Regions from separate parts of the Homo sapiens genome. Here region 2 is linked to region 1. The links come from fine-mapping of genetic effects on gene expression. A gene starts in region 1. The other region holds a variant in brackets. All regions are shown on one strand. Distances are between the middles of the regions.

Region 1 (11,237 bases):
CCTCGGCCTCCCAAAGTGCTAGGATTACAGGCGTTAGCCACCGTGCCCGGCCTTTTTTAAATTTTTTTGAGACAGAGTTTTGCTGTCACCCAGACTGGTGTGCAGTGGCCCAATCTCAGCTCACTGCAACCTCTGCCTCCCAGGTTCAAGCGGTTCTCCTGACTCAGCCTCCTGAGTAGCTCGGATTACAGGTGTGTGCCACCATGCCCAGCAAATTTTTTTGTACTTTTAGTAGAGACGGGGTTTCGCAGTGTTTGCCAGGCAGGTCTCGAAATCCTGACCTCAGATGATCCGCCCACCTCAGCCTCCCAAAGTGCTGGGATTACAGGCGTGAGCCACCGGGCCCGGCCCCTAATGATGTCTTGATTCCCCCACAGGGATGCAGGCACGGGCAAAGGCATGTGTCCACGCCCCCAGCCTGGCCACGCCCCAGCAGGCAGTGGGTGTCCCCATCTACCCACGAGTCCACCCCAGCCCCGCAGGTGCATACCACAGCCGAGCTCGTCGCTGGAGTCGGGACAGTCTGGGTGGCCGTCGCAGCGCCACGTGAGTGGAATGCAGTCATCGCTCAGCGTGCAACGGAGCTCGCCTGCTAGGCAGGCCAGGCGGCTGCAGTTGCGCAGTTTCTTGTCAGTTCCCCCAGAGCAGTCACTGACGCCGGTGCAGGGGCAGGGGAGGCCAGGGGGCGGTGGGCATTGCCCTTTCTGGGTACATGGCTCAATCCCTGGGGCACAGGGTTGGTCAGGTCCCAAATGCCCACCCAAGAAGGCCCAGGTACTCCCTGAAACCCCATCCCCTGCAAGCCCCACCCTCTAAGAACAGCTGAGCCCAAAAAAATGCTCCCTTCCTAAGGCTCCGCCCCCTGCAACTGTTAACTCCACTTTCTAAGGACAGGCCTCCCTGCAAGCTCTTCCCCTGAGACCCCACTAGCTCTACCTTCCTACAAGCCCACTTTATTCTATTTGTTTGTTTGTTTCTTTCTTTATTTTTTCTTTTGAGACGGGGTCTCCCTTTGCTGCCCAGGCTGCAGTGCAGTGGCGCAATCTCGACTCACTGAAACCTCTGCCTCCCAGGGTCAAGTGATTCTCCTGCCTTAGCCTCCTGACTAGCTGGGATTACAGGGGCCTGCCGCCACATCCAGCTAACTTTTGTATTTTTAGTAGAGATGGGGTTTCACTGTGTTGGCCAGGCTGGTCTCGAACGCCTGACCTCAAGTGATCCGCCTGCCTTGGCCTCCCAAAGTGCTGGGATTACATGTGTGAGCCACCGTACCTGGCTCCCTCCCTCTCTCTTTCCTTCCTTTCTTTCCTTTCTTTCATTTTTCTTTTTTTTTTCTTTTTCTTTTTTTTTCCTGAGACAGTCTTACTCTGTTGCCCAGGCTGGAGTGCACTGGCACAATCCTAGCTCACTGCAGCGGCAACCTCCCAGGATCAAGTGATCGATCCTCCCACCCTAGCCTCCCAAAGTGCTGGGATTGCAGGCGTGAGCCACTGCGCCCAGCCCAAGCCCATCTTAGACCCCGCTTCTTATGACCCACAGACCCAAGTCGCACCCATCCCTGCGGCCCTGCCTTTCCCACAAGCTCCACCTCCGCGTGCCTGGCCCCTGACAAACCACCCTCAGGCCCCGCCCCCTGTAAGCCCCGCCAAGGGGCGTGGCCACTCACTGCACTCCTCCTCATCGCTGCCATCGCTGCAGTCCAAGTCCCTGTCGCAGCGCCAGGTGAGGGGCACGCATAAGCCACTGGTGCGGCACTGGAACTTGGTGGGTGGGCACGAGCCTGAGCTGGGGCCTGCGAGATGGATGCAAATGAAGCCTGGGAAGCTGGAGGCTGGACCTTTCTCCAAGAGCACAGTAGTCACTGGCTGTGATCCGCAGGAGACAGGCGAAGTCCCGGGATATAGGAACCACACTGGCGGCTGCTTGTTACTGAGCCCCTAGTACGAGTGGGGTTCAGAGTGTAGCAGTTCCTGGGCTCAAGAGCCCCACTGGGCAGGTGCTACTGCACTCCCCAGGTTACAGAGAAAGGAACCAAGAGGAGGCCATACAGCTGGTGGCAGAGGCTGGGTGCAGTGGCTCACGCCTGTAATCTCAGCACTTTGGCAGGCCGAGGCAGGTGGATCACTTGAGGTCACGAGTTCGAGACCAGCCTGGCCTACATGGAAACCCCGTCTCTGTTAAAAATACAAAAATTAGCCGGGCGTGGTAGTGCACGCCTGTAATGCCAGCTACTCGGGAGGCTGAAGCATGAGAATCGCTTAAACCTGGGAGATGGAGGTTGCAATGAACCGAAATCATACTGCTGCACTCCAGCCTGGGCGACAGAACGAGACTCCGTCACCACAAAAAAGAAAAAAAAAAGAGCTGGTAGCGGAGTTGGGCTTCGAACTCAGGTCTCGCTGATCCCAGAGTCTTCACCAGGCTCCTCATAGCGAGATGATCTGCCAGGGAGACCTCCAAACTCAGTGGTTAAAGAGACTGAGGGACGGGCCATTTTTCCACATGCCCTGGGTCAGGCTCCCGGGCTCAGGTCAGCAGGGAGGGTCTATCTCCTCTGCGTAGCAAAAGGGAAACTGAGGCAGTGGGTGGGAAACTGAGGCACTGGGTAGAAAATCTGCTCAGTCACCAAGTCCTGTTGCCCCGCCTCCTGAATTCCTCCCAGACCTATCACTCTCCCCATCCTAAATGTGTCAGCTCCTCACCAGAGCCCCAGGCCCCAGGCCCCAAGGTCCATTAGGACACCAGAGACTTGCCTTTCCCTCTCTCCTCCCTACACCCTGTGTTTTCCCCTCAATTTTCAGATCTCAGCTGATTTCCTGGGAGGGTTCTCATGTCCCTCTTGGAGACCTAGGAAGCACTGCCTCCCATGTCTAACAACTGTCCTTAAAGCCCTGGTCATGCCTGTCCACCCACAGACTGGACATTCTGTGGAGGTCAGGGCTGTGACCTGGCCGCCTAAACCCAGGGCAGTGCCTGATTATAAGTGGACACAGGTCACATAAGGGTCCAAGCTGGGTCCAGAGAAGATCCCGGCTGTCCTAGATTCTGAGCAGGGAAGCTCAGCTGCTTGCCGACCTGGAGGGGCACGGAGGGGCCCGCAACCTGGGCCAAGGGACAGAGGAAGGGAGTGGCCTTTACGGCTTCCTCCTGGGTGCGGCCAGGGGAGGTGGCAAATCCGCCACCCTGGCTTAGCTTCACTCTGCCAAGGCCTTTAACCTCTTCCACCTTTACCCACCAGCCATGAGCCTCCAACCCCCCACTCCCCACTGCCAGCCCCTCCTCGGCCTTCAGGCCTAATTGCACCTACTTGCCACAGGGTCCCTGAGCTCTATGGATCCCAGAAGAGCTGTGGACAAACCGGTGCCTGCTTCCTTCCCCGCCCCCGGGAGATCTGGCAGCCTCCAGGTGTGGCTCTCCACCCAGGCGCAGACTTCCACAGCCCTGACACCTCTGACCTCCCTTCGCTGGACTGCGGGAGTGTGTATCCCTCTGCAAAGTGGACAGTAGAGCACAGCAGTCCCCGCCTCATAGGGTGTAAGCCTGACAGGAGTTACAGTGACCAGTGACTTTCTCTCCTGGCCTCAGTTTCCTCACCTGTAAACGGGGTATGCTGGGAATCCCTACCTCAACATCCTGAGAAAAAAGAGACTGTGTATAGAGTTTTGTCCTGTAATCCCAGCACTTTGGGAGGCTGAGGCGGACAGAACACTTGAGGTCAGGAGTTCGAGACCAGTCTGGCCAACATGGTGAAACCCCATCTCTACTAAAAATACAAAAATTAGCCGGGCATGGTGACGGTGCCTGTAGTCCCAAGCTACTCGGGAGGCTGAGGCATGAGAATTGCTTAAACCCGGGAGGCGGAGGGTGCAGTGAGCCAACATTGCACTGCACTCCAGCCAGGGCGACAGAGGGAGACTCAAAAAAAAAAAAACAAAAACTTTTGTACTTGGTTAACGTGAACGCTGCCTCCTTAAAAAAAAACAAACAAAAAAAAACCCAGGAACATTTAACGTGAATGTCAGGGACTTTGGGATGAGTCCAGGGACCTAGAAGTGCGGAATGCACAAAGGAGCTGGGAAAGTGTGTGAGCCTGAGCCCAGGGCTGCAAGTTGGGAGTGCCTGAGTGCACAGGGAGGCCACTCCAACCCTCCAGCTGCCTCTAGGGGTATCAGAGAGGGAGCCCGTCCCCACTGGCCACCAATACCTCTTAGGCCAGGGCGAACACGTCCACGGGGGTATATTCAACTTGTGACCCCAGTCTCTGCGAGAGCCTGCAGTAGCATGGGGGGGAGAGACCTCGCGTTCTCTAAGGATGGAGGACAAAGGAGGAGAGACTGGGAGGGCAGGGACGGTTGCGGAACGGTCACAAGGCCTGGGCGCGAGGGTTTGGAAGGCAAAGGTGCGAGAGGCACCAGGTGACCCGTCCTGCGTGATTAGCGGTCGGACAATCTGAGCCTGCTAAGAGCTTTCCTGACCACGCTGGTATGAAGGGCGGCTTGGAGGTGACAATGGGGGACGACAGGGCACAGCAGGTGTGGAGACGGTGTGCAGGGCCGGAGCAAAACCGTTAAAGGCAGGTGGAGACACCCTCCTCCCCTCCCCCAGCATGGGGTCTTCCTAGCACCAGTGCGCGCCTTCCCACAAGCGATGAAGTCCAAGTCCACGTGCTGGGGGAGTGTCATGAACTGACGTGCGGTGCAGCCAGTGACTAGGCGTTGTCGGTGCGCGGCGGCGGGGCGAAGCCTCGCGAGGGGTGGGAGCCCGCGCTGCGGGGCGTCACTCACCTGCGGCCTGGGCAGAGGTCGGGGTGGAAAGCGGGCTCGCGGCGGCCTCCAGGCCTAGTCCGAGGCCGAGCAGCAGCAGCAGCGCCAGGCCCAGAGCCCCTGTTCGCCACGCTCCAACCTGCGCCATCCAACCGCCGCTCATGCTGTCCCCACAGCGGCGCCGGCCACGCGCTGTCCAGACCGCTCTCTTATCCCTGCGCACGCGCACGCGCGGGGTTGGGGCGGGGCCCAAGCCCCTGAGTTCTGCGGCGCCCGCGGCTACGCGTACCGTAAATGTCAGAATAGCAGGGAAAAGAGAATTAGAGGCCCGTCCCCACTTTCCCCAGTGACCAGATCAGTTGAAAGGTATGGAGCCCGCTTGAAGTTAGAAACTTCTGGGGATGGGAAGGAATTTGTTGGTGTTCATTTGCATTATTTCCCGTTCCAAATGAGGACTGCTGCAAATGTTACTGCCTCGTGATCTTCTTTAATATGGCAGCCACGCCCCTCAGGCACTCCGCATTTCCTCCCTCATCCCACTGCTTTTGTGGCGCCGACAGGTAATTTATTTTATTTACTTATTCTGGTTTGTTGTCCGAGTCCCCATAGAATGCTAGCTACTGGAGGGCAGGGATCTTCTGTTGCTCACTGCTTTATTCTCAGGATCTGACACATAGTGCTTGACTCATAGTAGGCTCTTAGTAAACATTTGGTGAGTAAATGAATAAATGAAACGTCCATTCTCGGAGTCGGGTTGCTTGGGGGGGAAAAAGGAAAGGAAATCAATTAATTAATTAAATTTAATAATAAAGGCCGGGCGCGGTGGGTCACGTGTGTGATCCCAGCATTTTGGGAAGCAGAGGCGGGCAGATCGCTTGAGCCCAGGAGTTCGAGATCAGCCTGGGCAACACAGCAAGTCCCCGCCCGCCTCAAGAAAAAAGAAAATTAGCTGGGCATGGTGGCTCTAATTTGTAGTCCCAGCTACTCAGGAGGCTGAGGTGGGAGAATCACTTGGGGCTGCACTCCAGCGTGGGTGACAGTGAGACCCCATTTGTTAGAAAAGTTGGCCGGCGCGCTGGCTCACGCCTGTTAACCCCAGCACTTTGGGAGGCCGAGGCAGGCGGATCACGAGGTCAGGAGTTCTAAACCAGCCTGGCCAACATAGTAAAACTCCCGTCTCTACCAAAAATACAAAAATTAGCCGGGTGTGGTAACATGCTCCTGTAGTCCCAGCTACTAGGGAGGCTGAGATGGGAGAATCGCTTGAACCCGGGAGGCGGAGGTTGCAGTGCGCCGAGACCACATCATTGAACTCCAGCCTGGGTGACAGAGTGAGACTCTGTCTCAAAAAAAAAAAAAAGTTGTGGTCATAAAACTTGGTTCAGATGCCGTCAGCGGCATGCCTTGCCTAGGGTCTTGCCCTCCTTGTGGCCTCTGCACACCCTGCCTAGTCTTTCCTTCCCTCCTGACCTTTCTGAATCTGATTCATCCTTTTGCCCCAAGCAGAATCCCACCTTCTCCAGGAAGGTGTTAGCCTTTGTAGGACCCACTCTGGGACACTGGTACCTGCTGCCTGTAGCCGTGGCCTTTCCCCTTCCAGAGGGCAGGGCGGTCTCAGCACCCTCTTGGTCCACAGCTGATCTTTTTTAGCTGCTGAAGGGTCTGGGGCTGTGCCCTGGGGAAGCCATGACACTCCCCTGCGTAGGGTCACTGGGTGGCTCCTGCAGCCAGACTTGGACACCCTCCCTTTGCAGATTTCTGTCTCCTCCCCAGGAACCAGCTGCCTTCCTTCTGGGGCGAATTCATTCTTATCCCACAGCCCCAGCATAATGGGATCTGGCTCAGGGAGGCCTTTCCTGATCTGCCCTAGGTTTGCCTTCCCTGTGAGCAGCCCTTACTGTCCTCTGCCTTCCCCGTTGAGCTGCAGGGTGACCATGGTCAAGCAGGAGCCTCAGTGGGAAGGTGCTGAGGAAGGTTCATGTGAGAAGTGGCTGTGGGAGCCCTCAAGAGATGGAAGTTAGGCCAGGCGCGGTGGCTCACGCCTGTAATCCCAACACTTCGGGAGGCAGAGGTGGGCGGATCACTTGAGGTCAGGAGTTTGAGACCAGCCTGGCCAACATGGCGAAACCCCGTCTCTACTAAAAATACAAAAATTAGCTGGGCTTGTGGCAGGCGCCTGTAATCCCAGCTACTCGGGAGGCTGAGGCAAGAGAATCACTTGAACCCAGGAGGCAGAGGTTATAGTGAGCCGTGATCGCGCCATTGTACTCTAGCCTGGGCAACAAGAGCGAAACTCTGTCTCAAAAAAAAAAAAGAAGTGAGAAGTCTGTGGCTGGCCTACTGAGTGTCCGCACATACACCCCTTACCCCACCTGACTGGTCTTCACAATCAATGCTCCCCAACAGCCAGCGGTCCTGGGAGTCCAACCTCCCAGAAGGATCACCCACTCCCACCACTCTCAAGGTCAGAGCCTGGCCTTTGGGGGAAAGGGCAGTGCTGTCTCCAGGGCCTCTGCACCCAGGGACAGTGTCTGTCCCACCCCTGGAGTGCCAACAGAGTTGGGAGACTCAGCACTGACTTCACCCCAAAATCCAAGTAAGCTGGGTATTGCTTAAAATCAGGGGCCAGGCGTGGTGGCTCACACCTGTAATCCCAACACTTTGGGAGGCCAAGGCGGGCGGATCACCTGAGGTCAGGAATTTGAGACCAGCCTGGCCATCTCTACAAAAAAAAAAAAAAATTAGCGGGTATGGTGGTGCACACCCGTAGTCCCAGCTACTCGGGAGGCTGAGGCAGAATTGCTTGAGCCCAGGAGGCAGAGGTTGCAGTGACCTGAGATCGTGCCGTTGCGTTCCAGCCTGGGTGACAAGCGCGAAAACTCTGGCTCCTGCAGCCAGATTTCTATCTCCTCCCCAGGAACCAGCTGCCTTCCTTCTGGAGCTAACTCATTCTCATCCCACAGCCCCAGCATAATGGTTTCTGGCTCAGGGAGGCCTTTCCTGATCTGCCCTAGGTCTGCCTTCCCTGTAAGCAGCCCTCACTGTCCTTTGCCTTCCCCGTTGAGCTACAGGGTGACCAAGGTCAAGCAGAGGCCTCAGTGGGAAGGTCTAAAAAATAAAAATAAAATCAGGCCAGGTGTGGTGGCTCATGCCTGTAATCCCAGCACTTTGGGAGGTCAAGGCAGGAGGATCGCTTGAGGCCAGGAGTTCAAGATCAGCCTGGGAAACATGGTGAGACTCTGTCTCTATTTTTTTATTTTTTAAAGTAAAACTAGAAGTGATACCTGAGCTCTACGTATTTGTCATAAATTAGGTCACATTCTCCCTGGAGGAAATCCAAGGAGGCAAAGTAGTCGGGTGGCCGTGAGGGTGCAGTGTCACAGGTAAGGCTGGTCCGAGGACAGCTCCCACCTCTTTATGGGAGGAGCTGGAGTCACCGCCTTCTTCTCAGTGGCAGCTACAGCAGAGCTGGAGGAGGGAAAGACTTCAGTGAGGGTTTCCAAAGAACAGTGTGGAAAGATCTGAGGGAGCCCACACCTGCCCCGGGACAAACACACCCACAGGGACTTTCTGGACCTGCAGGACAGACAGCAGGGTGTTCCAGAATGCCAACCCCTCCAACGCAGCCCCTCAGAGGATCAGCCAACGCCAGGTGGGAGCTAGCAAGCCTCCTCTCTCCCCTGAGCCCTGTATGAACCCCCTGCTGTGGCCCCCAGGCCCAGAACCCACTGTGGAGAGCTGGGCTCCTCCCTTCCCACTTTTGGTCTCCAGCGTACACAAGGCCCCCACCCCCATTCCTGCTGCCCCTCAAAACAGGATGCTGGCAAAAGGGCCAAGCGATCAGGTGACAATGGCCTCCAGCTATTCCTGCCTCAGACTGGGCAAGAACTGCATGGCAGGCGCTACTGTGTGGGCGCAGAGCCAGGAAGATGGGGCACCGCCCTCAGGAAGACTCAGGCTGGTGGGGCTGAGAATCCATGCGCAAATGGCAACTGCAAAACGCATCTCTGGCCCAGAGCTGGCCAAGAGGGAGCCCCCAGGAGACCCTGTGCCGGCAAGTCCAGGACGAGCACCCTCCCCTCTCACCCCACCCACCTGAGCCTGTGGAGCTCACACACTTCACAGCCTAAGCAAGAAAGGAAGCAGGAGGGTGGGGTGATGGAGGAGGCGCCCCAGGGGTGGAGGCACAGGACCTCCCAGGAGCCTCAAGGAAATGGAAAAGGCAGAAGTGGCCTCCCTGGGAAATGCACACATCTCTGGGGGCATGGCAAGGGGCTGTGTGGGAACAAGGTATCTTGCCACACTCTGGTGCTGGACTCCAGTGAATCAGAAGGTGACAACAAGGACCACTCCACTGAGTTCCTTCTTTTTGAGACAGACTCTTGCTCTGTCACCCAGGCTGGTGTGCAGTGGCACAATCTCAGTTCACTGCAACGTCCGCCTCCCAGGCTTGAGTGATTCTCTTGCCTCAGCCTCCCAAGTAACTGGGATTACAGGTGTGCACCATCACTCCCGGCTAATTTTTGTATTTTCTTTCTTGTTTATTATTTATGAGACAGGGTCTCACTTTGTCACCCAGGCTGGAGTGCAGTGGCGCAATCTCAGCTCAGTGAAGCTTCCTCGACCTCCCAGGTTCAAGAGATCCTTCTGCCTCAGCCCTTCAAGTAGCTGGGCCTACGGGTGCACACCACCACACCCGGCTAATTTTTGTATTTTTTGTAGAGATGGGGTTTCCCCATGCTGCTCAGGCTGGTCTTGAACTTCTGGGCTCAAGCGATCCACCCGCCTCGGCCTCCCAAAGTGCTGAGATTACAGGCGAGAGCCACAGCGCCCCTAACTTTTGTATTTCAGTAGAGGCAGGGTTTCGCCCTGTTGGCCAGGCTGGTGTCGATCTCCTGACCCCTAGTGATCCTCTCACCTCGGCCTCCCAAAGTGCTGGGATTACAGGCGTGAGCTACCATGCCCAGCCTAAAAAATTTCTAATAGAGACGGGGTCTCGCTGTGTTACTCAAACAAGTCTAGAACTCAAGCAATCCTCACACCTCAGCTTCCCGAGTCACTGGGATTACAGGCACACACCACTGCGCCTGGCCTATTCACAGAGTTCTTTTTTTTTTTTTTGAGACAGAGTCTCACTCTGTCACCCAGGCTGGAGTGCAGTGGCGCGATCTCAGTGAGCTGCAAGCTCCGCCTCCCGGGTTCACACCACTCTCCTGCCTCAGCCTCCCGAATAGCTGGGACTACAGGCGCCCACCACCACACCTGGCTAATTTTTTGTATTTTTAGTACAGACAGGGTTTCAACATGTTAGCCACGATGGTCTCGATCTCCTGACCTGGTGATCCGCCCTCCCCGGCCTCCCAAAGTGCTGGGATTACAGGCGTGAGCCACCGCGCCCAGACCTCACAGAGTTTTAAGTACAGAGCAGGCCCTGCCTGACCTCATCACCTCCCAGATCTCAGCACACTGCAAGTCTAGCATCCCTATTTTATATGTGAAGAAACCAAGGCTCAAGAAGGCTGAGGGACTGCCCACACCGTGAGTTGGCTGTAGAGCCCAGACCCCAACAGGAGTCCAGGAAAACTGGTTTGAAATCCTGCTTCTGCTTACTGCTGCCTGTGTGGCCCAGGCCAGTCACTTGGCTTCTGTGAGCCTCGATTTCCTCTTCTGCAAGAGGGGTCATCACCATCTAACTGGTGGAGTTATTAGGAGGTAGGCAGGACACTGACTCTGTGCCAGGCTCCAAGAGTTTACAAATATTAATTATGAGGACTAACCCTCGTAACAGCTTTCTGAAGTAGATGCTATTAGAGTCCCCATTTAATTAAGAGAAGACACCTGAAACCAGGGACCAAACTGCTTTTTGAGAGGAGCCCAAGGTTTATACACTTCTGTCTCTGAGAAGAATACATGGCTGGGCATGGTGGCTCACACCTGTAATTCCAGCACTTTGGGAGGCCGAGGCCAGAGGATCACATGAGGTCAGGAGTTCAAGACCGGCCTGACCAACATGGTGAAACCCCATCTCTACTAAAAATACAAAATTAGCCTGGCATGGTGGCATGCGCCTGTAATCCCAGCTACTTGGGAGGCTGAGGCAGGAGAATCACTTGATCCTAGGAGGTGGAGGTTGCAGTGAGCCGAAATCGCGCCACTGCACTCCAGCCTGTGCAATAAGAGTGAGACTGTCTCAAAATAAATAAATAAAATAAGAATTCATAATTATATCAACAGTAATGTCTCAGTTTCTCACAGGACCCTTGGAGGGACCCCGGACTTCATCTGTTTTGTAGGATGCAGAGTCCTGGCTGAGGCGCTAACTTCTACCCTCCCCTGGGTTGGACTAAATGAGCTCTTGCTGAGCATGGTGACTCTCACTTGTAGTCCCAGCTACTCGGGAGGCCAAGGCAGGAGGATCGCTTGAGCCCAGGAGTTTGAGAACGGCCTGGGCAACAAAGCAAGACCCCATCTCTA
Region 2 (11,237 bases), 35 kb after region 1:
GACCAAGAAAACAAGGGTAGCTGGGAGTTGGGGAGGCATTCCAGACCTGCTGGGTTTTCTGATAATCTCTGGGGAAAATCAGAAATGGACGCTCTATGTAGTGGACTATGAGCCTTTAGGAAAGAAAGACCAGAGTTGGAAGCCCTTCACAGGATCATTAAAAACTCATCTAGGCTGGGCGCGGTGGCTCACGCCTGTAATCCCAGCACTTTGGGAGGCCGAGGAGGGCGGATCATGAGGTCAGGAGATCGAGACCATCCTGGTTAACACGGTGAAACCCCATCTCTACTAAAAATATAAAAAAGTAGCCGGGCGTGGTGGCAGGCGCCTGTAGTCCCAGCTACTCGGGAGGCTGAGGCAGGAGAATGGCGTGAACCCGGGAGGCGGAGCTTGCAGTGAGCTGAGGTGGCGCCACTGCACTTCAGCCTGGCAACAGAGCGAGATTCCGTCTCAAAAAAAAAAAAAAAAAAAAAAAAAAGGATGTAATTGTGCATCCAAATTTTTACCAAGGTCAGTTGTGAAACTCTTGCAGGAATGATGGGGAATTGCGGGCTGGATGCACCAAAGATCCAAATCAACAAATCAACGGATACTTGTCTCCCTGGAATGTCGCTAGCGGAGTGTCACAGGCTTGATCCTTGGCTTGTAAGAGTTTGTAATGCAAACACAAAACACCTGGGTTGTCAGAGCTGTGACTATTCATGGGGCTGCCTGGGAAAGTGACTGTTTGGATGACATGATGGAGGCTGTAAGAAAGTGAGGAAGATTGGGCCACATATAATAATGTGATATTTAACAAGGACAAATATTGAATCCAGAACTTTGGTTCAAAAAGCACAGGGTGAAATCTCAGCACTCTGGGAAGCCAAAGCAGAAGGATCGCTTGAGCCTAGGAGTCAAGACCCACCTGCGCAACATAGCGAGACCCTATCTCTTTTTGTTTTTTTTTTTTTTTGAGACAGAATTTCCCTCTTGTTGCCCAGGCTAGAGTGCAGTGGCACAATCTTGGCTCACTGCAACCTCTGCCTCCTGGGTTCAAGTGATTCTCCTGCCTCAGCCTCCTGAGTAGCTGGGATTACAGCCACTGCTACTATACCTGGCTAATTTTTTGTATTTTTAGTAGAGATAGGGTTTCATCATGTTGGCCAGGCTGGTCTCGAACTCCTGACCTCAGGTGATCCACCCACCTCGGCATCCCAAAGTGCTGGGATTACAGGCATGAGCCAAGGTGCCTGGCCACTATCTCTTTTGTTTGTTTGTTTTTAAATAGTGAAACCACCAAGCACAGTGGCTCACAAGCCATTGCTCTCCAGCCTGGGCAACAAGAGCGAAGCTCTGTCTCTAAATAAATAAATAAAATAGCGAAACCCCATCTCTACAAAAAACACAAAAATTAGCTGGATGTGTTGGCATGCACCTGTAGTCCCAGCTACTCAAGAAGCTGAGGCAGGAGTATCTCTTGAGTCCAGGAGATGCAGGCTGCAGTGAGTTATGATCATGCCACTGCATTCCAGCCTGGTTGACAGAGCAAGACCTTGTCTCAAAAAAAAAAAAAAAAAAAAAGAAAAGAAAAGAAAAGAAAAGCACAGGAACATGGAGTGGGAAAGATGGGCTTTGGAAAGCCCACATGGAAAACCTTCAGGGAGGGGAAAGTGCCTACGGTGTGCCCTTCCTGATTAAATGTCATCGCCATAGCTGGACACAATGGTGCATGCCTGTAGTCCCAGCTACTCAGGAGGCTGAGGCAGGAGAATCGCTTGAACCTGGGAGGCAGAGGTTGCAGTGAGCTGAGATCATGCCACTGCACTCCAGCCTGGGGGACAGAGCCAGACTCCGTCTCAAAAAAAAAAAACCATATATATATATATATACACACACACACACACACACACACACACAGCCCCCATACAACACTTTGCATACTGCAAAGTAGTATTATTATTCATATTTTACAGATGGAGAAACTGAGGCACAGAACAATTAAATCAGTTGCCTGTGGGAAGCACCCTCAGATTGGGCTCTGCCCATCTGCGGAACCCTTGTCAGCAGGTCCCTGCCACAGCTTCTGACTGCCCTTTACCTGTCCAGTCCTCCACTGACAGGCATCTGCCAAACCCACTTCATCCTCTCCCTGGGCCACGGCCCGTCTGTGCTAACCACATGGCAACACTCCCAGCCACCCCTTCTGGCTTCTCGAATCCCTGGGACCACCTGTGTGCCTGATGCTATGAAGCACTGAGCACCCACCAGCCCTCCTGACTCATTACCCTACTCCACCGCTGGGGAAACCGTAACTCCATTTCCCACTTCTGTCTGGCCGAGGTCCCTGACCTCTCCCTTCCCACTCCAAGGCCAGGCAGGGGGCCTCTTCCAGTCCCCAAGCAGCTGTTTCCCGTCCCTTCACACCAGCTGCAAGGGGTGGATCAACAGGCCAGCGGGTCATCGCAGAGGACAGCCAATGCCGTTCATCACTTGTTTTCAGGAAATTGCCAGGGAAGAACTGGGTTGTGGAAAAAGTCCAGATCAAGGGTTGGGGGGTCTGGGTCTACTTCTCACACAGCTGGCCGTATGACGCAATGGGGTCAGCGTCCTCCTCCGGTGACCTGGTCACACCCAAATCCCAGGCCCTGGGATCTCAGAAGACAGCTGTGGGCCATTCCTAAGACCTAAACTAGCTGAAGCAGTTGGATCCAGAGGCTGGGCTAAGAAAGGAATGGATCCCTCCAGAATGTCAAATAATAACAACGCTTTTGATATTTACTATGGGCCAGCCTCTAGTCTAAGGAATTTATGGATATTTACTTTTTTTTTTTTTTTTTTTAGAGGCAATGTCTCGCTCACTCTGTCACCCAGGCTGGAGTCAGTGGCTCGATCATAGCTCACTGTGGCCTTGAACCCCTGAGCTCAAGTGATCCGCCTCAGCCTCACAAATAGCTGAGACTACAGGAATGGACCTCTACACCTGGCTAATTCAGGCTAATATTTTAAATTTTTTGGTTTTTTGTTTTAGATGGAGTCATGCTCTGTCGCCCAGGCTGGAGTGCAGTGGCACAATCTCAGCTCACTGCAATCTCCGCCTCCCGGGTTCAAGTGATTCTCCTGCCTCAGCCTCCCAAGCAGCTGGGATTACAGGTGTGCACCACCATGCCTGGCTAATTTTTGTATTTTTAGTAGAGACGGAGTTTCACCATGTTGGCCAGGCTGGTCTCAAACCAGGCGTGAGCCGTGCCCGGCCTAATTTTATTTTTTGTAGATACAGGTGTCTTGCTATATTGCCCAGGCTGGCCTCCAACTCCTGGGCTCAAGCAATCTTCCCAGTTCAGCCTCCCAGAGTGCTGGGATTACAAGCATGAGCTACTGCACCTGACCTTGACTTATTTTTTAAAATCCTAGCTAAATCCACTGAGGTTGGATTTCCTATGATCATTGTCCCTTCCCCTATTGTACAGATGGAGAAACTGAGACACAGAACAGTTTAGTGTCCTGCCTGGGTCCTGTCATAAACAGGCAGAGGCAGGTTTTAAACCCAGGCAGGTCTTCCAGAGTCCTTGCTTTGGCCACTACACTTGAATGCTTTCTTTTATTTTTATTTTTGAGACGGAGTCTCTGTCACCCAGGCTGGAGTGCAGTGGCAGGATCTCGGCTCACTGCAACCTCTGAGCCCAGGGTTCAAGCGACTCTCCTGCCTCAGCATCCTGAGTAGCTGGGATTACAGGCACTTGCCACCACAGCTGGCTAATTTTTGAATTTTTAGTAGAGACGGGTTTCATCATGTTGGTCAGTCTGGTCTCAAACTCCTGACCTCAAGAGATCAGCCCTACTTGACCTCCCAAAGTGCTGGGATAACAGGCATGAACCACCAAGGAGCCTCAGGGGGCTTGTCCCTCCCAGCCTACACCTGTGTCAGACTCTGATTGGGGGCGGAGGTGCCCACCACCTCTGCGGCTTCAGGGGCTGGGGCCTCACTAAGTGGGGCGTTTAGCTGCCTTCCCTCTCCTCCGCTCCCTGCCCTGACTGTCACAGCTAGATCCGGATTCTGTGCCTGAGACCCCCTCATTAGGCCGTCAGAGCCGACGCCACACGCCCCCTCTCCCGCCCCAGGGACTATTTTGGGACGCAGAGCTGTGATCACCAAACCGGAGTGGTGGGGGCCACGGCAGGCCAGTGAGGATCCCAGTCCTGGGGAGAGGGCGCCTTCCAGGAGGCCCTGAGTACTGGCAGCCCCTGATGTCTGCTGGGACTCTCAGACTCTTGAGGTGGGTGGGTGGGGGACCGGTGGCGGCAGGAAGGTGGGTGTTAAAGTCATCATCACCCGTCCACCCCCAGGTCGTCCTAGCCGCACAGAGACAGAGCAGTTTCCTACAGGAAGCGCCGCCGGGCGGTTCCATCCGCTACCCATTGTCTGCGGGTCCGGGGGCCGTGCGTCCCTCCCCAAAACACCATTTCCGTGACACGCTCCCACACCCAGCCCAGCGCGAGGGGCTGGCTGGGGTCCCCAGGCCGTCCCGGGAAAGGGTCCCAGGGCCGGTTGTGGCATTAGGGAGCGAACGAGCCCCGCAGTGAGCTCCCGAAGGGCGAGAGGGGGGCAAGCCCACGCCTCCAGAGCCCCCCACTCTGCTCGCTACCCACCTGGGACTTCCAATGTGGGAGGGGTCCCGGCCAGAGGACACGACGCCCGCCCCGTCGCAGCGGGCAGAGCCCTCAGTGGGGCTGGAAACGCAGCGCAGCGCCGGGTCCCGGTGCGTCCCCGAATCCACCCACCCAGGGGTCCCCCATCCGTGTCCCCGCAAGCTGGCAATTTACCTGAAGCCGCAGCCCCAGCCGCGCCCGCACCCGAGCCCGCCCCCTCGAAGTCCGGGGACTGATTATCAAGGCCTTCGCCCTAACTGACGGCCACGCCAGCCAACCAGCACCCGAGGCTCTCCAAGCCGCCCAGTGGGACGGTGGGGTGGGACAGGCAGGCGGGGCCTGGAATGTAGGGGTGGTGACTGAGGGCGGGCCCTGGAGTGACGGTCGCCGAGCGCTGGCTGGCGGCATTTCTGCACCAGCAGAGGTCAAGTCTCTGCCCAGCGCCGGGCCAAGGAGCTTGGATTTGATCCACAGGCACGAGGGAGCCATGGGAGAACTATGAGTAGAAGAGTAACCCGGTGGGATTTCTATAACTGGCACTTATTTCGCAGTGCCTGGGTGAAGTATCAGGTCCCGGATCTTCCCCACCGCAGGGCCTCTGCACATGCTGTTCCACCTACCTGAAATGCTTTCCCTTGCACCTGTACACGTAGGTACTTTTTGAGGCTCCCCTACTGTTTTTTGTTTTGTTTTGTTTTTGTTTTTTGAGACGGAGTCCCAGGCTGGAGTGCAGTGACACTCACTGCAACCTCCGCCTCCTGGGTTCAAGCAATTCTCCTGCCTCAGCCTCCCGAGTAGCTGGGATTACAGACACACACCACCACGTCCAGCTAATATTTGTATTTTTAGTAGAGATGGGGTTTCACCATGTTGGCCGGGCTGGTCTGGAACTCCTGACCTCAAGTGATCCGCCCGCCTCAGCCTCCCAAAGTGTTGGGATTACAGGCGTGAGCCACCGCGCCCGGCCTTCCCTACTTTCTGAGGTTCAGCTTTTGTGTTGCTGCCCCCTAAATTCCTGACATAGCCCCTCCCCAGTTAGTATTTTTCTCATCACTCTATTGTATTAACCTAATAGCTACTTTTACTATCTGGAAAAAAAAAAAAAAGCAGACTCTGTTATTGGCAGGCGCAGTGACTCACGCCTGTAAATCCAGTATTTAGGGAGGCATAGATGGGAGGATAGCTTGAGCCAGGAGTTGAGACCAGCCTGGGCAACATAGCAAGACCTAGTTCTCAAAACAAAAGAAAACAACAAAACAAAAAGACAAAAACGAAACACTCAGTTATTTATTTGGTTTATTTTTTAATTTAATTTAATTTTT[T/C]TTTAGACAGAGTCTCGCTCTGTCCCAGGCTGGAGTGCAGTGGTGCGATCTTGGCTCACTGCAACCTCTGCCTCCTGGGGTTCAAGCGATTCTCCTGCCTCAGCCTTCTAAGTAGCTGGGATTACAGGCGCACACCACCACGCCCAGCTAATTTTTGTATTTTTAGTAGAGACAGGGTTTCACCATGTTGCCCAGGCTGGTCTCGAACTCCTGACCTCAGGTGATCCGCCCACCTCAGCCTCCCAAAGTGCTGGGATTACAGGCGTGAGCCACCATGCCTGGCTGGTTATTTATTGGTTTACCTGCTTGCCATCTCACTAAAGTGTCGGCACCAAGGCCAGGTGGGGTGGCTCATGCCTGTAATCCTAGCACCTCCTGAGGCTGAGGTGGGAGGATCTTTTGAGCCCAGCAGCTCAAGACCAGCCTGGGCAACAGAGTGAGACTCTGTCTCTAAATTAAGTGTCAGCACCATGGGAACAGGAAACTGGTTTTGATAACTGCTTTATCCAGCGACCCTAGTACACAGTAGATGCTTAATAAATGTTTGCTGAAATAATGTTTTCTTTTTCTTTTTTGAGTCAGGGTCTCATTCTGTTGCCCAGGGTAGAGTGCTGTGGCACAATATCTCAGCTCACTACAAACTCCGCCTCCCAGGTTAAAGAGATCCTCCTGCCTCAGCCTCCCAAGTAGCTGGGATTACAAGTGTGTGCTACGCCTAGCTAATTTTTTTTATTTTTAGTAGAGACGGGCTTTTACTACTTTGCCCAGGCTGGTCTTCAACTCCTTGGCTCAAGCAATCCACCTGCCTTGGCCTCACAAAGTGCTGGGATCACAGGCATAAGCCACAGCACCTGGCCAGAATATAGTAATATTTTAAAATGTATTTTAACATCTGATACTTTTTAAAAAAAAACAAAATTCCTGGGCTATTTTAATTGGTTGATTCTTTCAGTTAAAACTGTGGAATTCTGTCGCGTTTCCCCACAGAAACTCCATTGGAATTTTCTTCTTTGTTCCTTTGAGACAAAGTTTACTCTGTTGCCGATGCTGGAGTTCTGTGGCAAGACCTATGGCTCACTGCAGCCTTGAACTCCCAGACTCAAGCAATCCTCCCACCTCAACCTCCCGAGTAGCTGGGACTACAGGCATGTGCTACCACGTCCAGCAGGTTTCTTATTTTTGTAAGGACAGGGTCTCTCTATGTTGCCCAGGCTGGTCGCAAATTCCTGGGTTCAAGTGATTCTCCTGCCTCAGCCTCCCTAAATAGTGGCATAACAGGCATGAGCCGCTGCACTTGGCCTCCATTGGAATGTTTAAAATATATGTGTGTGTGTGTGTGTGTATATATATATATATATATATATATATATATATATAATTTTTTTTTTTTTTTGAGACGGAGTCTTGCTCTGTCACCCAGGCTGGAGTACAGTGGTGTGATCTCCACTCACTGCAAGATCCGCCTCCCGGGTTCATGCCATTCTCCTGTCTCAGCCTCCCGAATAGCTGGGACTATAGGCACCCACCACCACACCTGGCTGTTTTTGTATTTTTAGTAGAGACGGGGTTTCACCGTGTTAGCCAGGATGGTCTTGATCTCCTGACCTCGTGATCTGCCTGCCTCAGCCTCCCAAAGTGCTGGGATTACAGGCGTGAGCCACCGCACCCAGCCCTAAAATATTTTTATTGTGGCCGGGTGCGGTGGCTCACGCCTGTAATCCCAGCACTTTGGGAGGCCAGGGCAGGCAGATCACCTGATATCGGGAGTTCGAGACCAGCCTGACCAACATGGAGAAACTCCGTCTCTACTAAAAACACAAAATTATCCCAGTGTAGTGGTGCATGCCTGTAATCACAGCTACTTGGGAGGCTGAGGCAGGAGAATCACTTGAACCTGGGAGGCAGAGGTTGCAGTGAGCCGAGAGTGAGCCATTGCATTCCAGCCTGGGCAACGAGAGTGAAACTCTGTCTCAAAAAAAAAAAAAAAAAAAAAAAAATATATATATATATATATATATATATATATATATATATATAGTTGTAAAATAAAGCGTCCATAGATGCACACACACAGCAGATTCAAGAAACCACATAAAACAAATGTATACTCTTTCCCTAAGTGGCCTGAGGTAATCTGGGAAAATGGTTCGCTATTTACTTGACCCAGAGAACCCCACAAAATCATGCAAATCAAGAGGTTCAAATCTTCATGTTCACTTGGAGAACACTCATGAAACTGCCCAGGCCATCAAGGGTATGTATATATGAAAATCCACGAAGTATCTGAAAGATGTCACTTTACAGAAACTGTGTGTACCATTCCAACATTACAATGGTGGAGTTGGCAGGTGTGCCCAGGCCAAGCAGTGGGGCTGGACACAAAGTCAGTGGCCCAGAAAAAGTGCTGAATTTTTGCTGTACATGCTTAAAAATGCAGAGAGTGGCCGGGCATGGTGGCTCACACGTGTAATCCCAGCACTTTGGGAGGCTGAGGTGGGCGGATCACCTGAGGTCAGGAGTTCGAGACCAGCCTGGCCAACACGGTGAAACCCCATCTCTACTAAAAATACAAAAATTAGCTGGGTGTGGTGGCACGTGCCTGTAGTCCCAGCTACCAGGGAGGCTGAGGCAGGAGAATTGCTTGAACCCGGGAGGCGGAGGTTGCAAAGCCGAGATTGTGCCACTGCACTCCATCCTGGGCAGTAGAGCGAGACTCCGTCTCAAAAAAAAAAAAAATGCAGAGAGTAATGCTGAACTTAAGGGTTATATGTAGATTCTCTGGTCATTGAGCATATCCAAGTGAACAAAGTACCTAAGATGCGTCGCCAGACCTACGGAACTCCGGTCGGATTAACCCATGAATGAGTTCTCCCTGCCACACTGAGATGATTCTTACTGAAAAGGAACAGATTTTTCCTAAGCCAGAGGAGGAGGTTGCCCAAAAGAAAAAGATATCCCAAGGCCGGGCGCAGTGGCTCACGCCTGTAATCCCAGCATTTTGGGAGGCCGAGGCGGGTGGATCACCTGAGGTCGGGAGGTCGAGACCAGCCTGACCAACATGGAGAAACCCCATTTCTACTTAAAATATAAAATTAGCCGAGCGTGGTGGCGCATGCATGTAATCCCAGCTACTCAGGAGGAGGCTGAGGCAGGAGAATCATTTGAACCCGGGTGGCAGAGGTTGCGGTGAGCCGAGATCGCACCATCGCACTCCAGCCTGAGCAACAAGAGTGAAACTCCATCTCGGAAAAAAAAAAAAGAAAGAAAAAGATATCCCAGAAGAAACTGAAGAAACAAAAACTTATGGCATGGGAGTAAATTCAGCATTAAAATAAATGCAATTAAAAGTAAAAAACAAAAACAAAAAACAAAACAAAACCAACAACAACAACAAAAAACCCCACAAATGTATAGTTTAAGGAGTTCCTCCAGGGGGTAGTTCTCAACCAGGAGTGATTTTGCCCCATGGGAGAATGTTTGACAATATCCAGGAGCACTTTTGGGTAATGAGGAGGCGGGTGTTTTTGGCCTCTAGAGGGCGGAGGCCAGGAATGTAGCTAACCACCCTGCAATGCACAGGCCATCCCCAAGGACCAAGAATTATGTGGCCTGAATGTCAAGAGTGCTAAGTTTCAGAAACCCAGTGCTGAGATGAAGGTCATCGTCGCCTCCACCCGGGCCAACCAACTGCACTTGCCAGCTACCCCAGAAGCGCCTCCGTGGACTATGTCCTAGTCACAGCTGCCCCTCACTCCCTAAGTAACCACTGTTTTGTGACTTTTATTTATTTGTTTGTTTATTTATTTATTTATTTTTGAGACAGAATCTCGCTCTGTTGCCCAGGCTGGAGTGCAGTGGCATGATCTCAGCTCACTGCAGTCTCCTGGGTTCAAATGATTCTCCTGCCTCAGCCTCCTGAGTAGTTGAGATTACAGGTGCCCGCTACCATGACCAGATTTTTTGTATTTTTAGTAGAGATGGGGTTTCACCATGTTGACCATGCTGGTCTTGAGCTCCTGGCTTCAGGTGATCCACCTGCCTCGGCCTCCCAAAGTGCTGGGATTACAGGCATGAGCCAACACGCCCGGCCCTGTGTAGGTTTCTGTTTGTTTGCTTATTTATTTATTTCGAGACAGAGTCTCACTGTATTGTTCAGGCTGGAGTGCAGTGGTGCAATCAATGCTCACTGCAGCCTGGAACTCCTGGGCTCAAATGATCCTTAGCCTCCTGAGTAGCTGGGAGACAGGTGAGCGCCACTGCACATGTATAGTTTTATTATCCAAATGTGAATCTGTAGACACTGGAGTTTAGTCTTGCCCATTCAAAAAGAAAATGATATGTCTTTTAAGCTCCCCCTGCCCGTTTTTTTTTTTTTTTTTTTGAGACGGAGTCTTGCTCTGTTACCAGGTTAGAGTGCAGTGGCGTGATCTTGGCTCACTGCAACCTCCATCTCCCAGGTTCAACCGATTCCCCTGCCTCAGCCTCCAGAGCAGCTGGGACTACAGGCACAAGCCACCATGCCCAGCTAATTTTTTGTATTTTAGTAGAGATGGGGTTTCACCATGTTGGTCAGGATGGTCTCGATCTCCTGACCTTGTGATCGACCAGCCTCAGCCTCCCATAGTGTTGGGATTACTGGCACGAGCCACCGCGCCCGGCCTAAGCCTGTTTATTTATTTATTTATTTATTTTTAATTTTATTTTTTTGAGATGCAGTTTCACTCTTGTTGCCCAGGCTGGAGTCCAGTGGTGCAATCTTGGCTCACTGCAACCTCTGCCTCTTAGATTCAAGCGATTCTCCTGCCTCAGCCTCCTGAGTAGCTGGGATTACAGGCATGCGCCACCACGTCCGGCTAATTTTTGTATTTTTAGTAGAGATGGAGTTTCTCCATGTTGGCCAGGCTGGTCTGGAACTCCCGATCTCAGGTGATCTGCCCACCTGGGACTCCCAAAGTGCTGGGATTACAGGTGTGAGCCACCGCGCCCGGCCTAAGCCTCTTTTAATTCACAGGTTCCTCTCCATCCCTCCCTTTCCCTTACAATAGAAGCATTGCATGCCTGGGCATGGTGCCTCACACCTGTAATCCCAGCACTTTGGGAGGCCGAGGCAGCAGGAACGGTTGAGCCCAGGAGTTCGAGATTATCCTGGGCAATATAGTGAGACCCCCCATCTCTACAAAAACTACAAAAATTAGCTGGGTATGGTGGCATGCACCTGTAGTCCCAGCTACTGGGGAGGCTGAGGTGGGAGGATCGCTCGAGCCCAGGTGATCAAGGCTGCAGTGA

The links. PIP is the estimated chance that this variant, and not a neighbour inherited with it, causes the effect.
Region 2: its variant is fine-mapped to the expression of CD320 in whole blood (INTERVAL, PIP above 0.99).

What each region holds. Positions count from the first base shown.
Region 1 is chr19:8,303,365-8,314,601 of GRCh38, forward strand. It overlaps CD320 (CD320 molecule), which reads right to left and starts at 4,994. Exons shown (of 5, transcript NM_016579.4): 1 at 4,785-4,994; 2 at 1,667-1,792; 3 at 491-724. The coding sequence starts at 4,926. It overlaps NDUFA7 (NADH:ubiquinone oxidoreductase subunit A7), which reads right to left. Exons shown (of 4, transcript NM_005001.5): 4 at 7,920-8,231. The coding sequence ends at 8,141. RefSeq lists enhancers at 552-1,118, 3,757-4,497, 4,484-4,613, 4,498-5,237, 5,293-5,822 and 1 more and silencers at 4,694-4,783, 4,758-5,096.
Region 2 is chr19:8,338,422-8,349,658 of GRCh38, forward strand. It overlaps KANK3 (KN motif and ankyrin repeat domains 3), which reads right to left and starts at 4,841. Exons shown (of 11, transcript NM_198471.3): 1 at 4,804-4,841. It also overlaps the pseudogene LOC100129682. RefSeq lists enhancers at 1,849-2,349, 4,284-5,075. The variant T/C (reference allele first, on the strand shown) is at 5,952.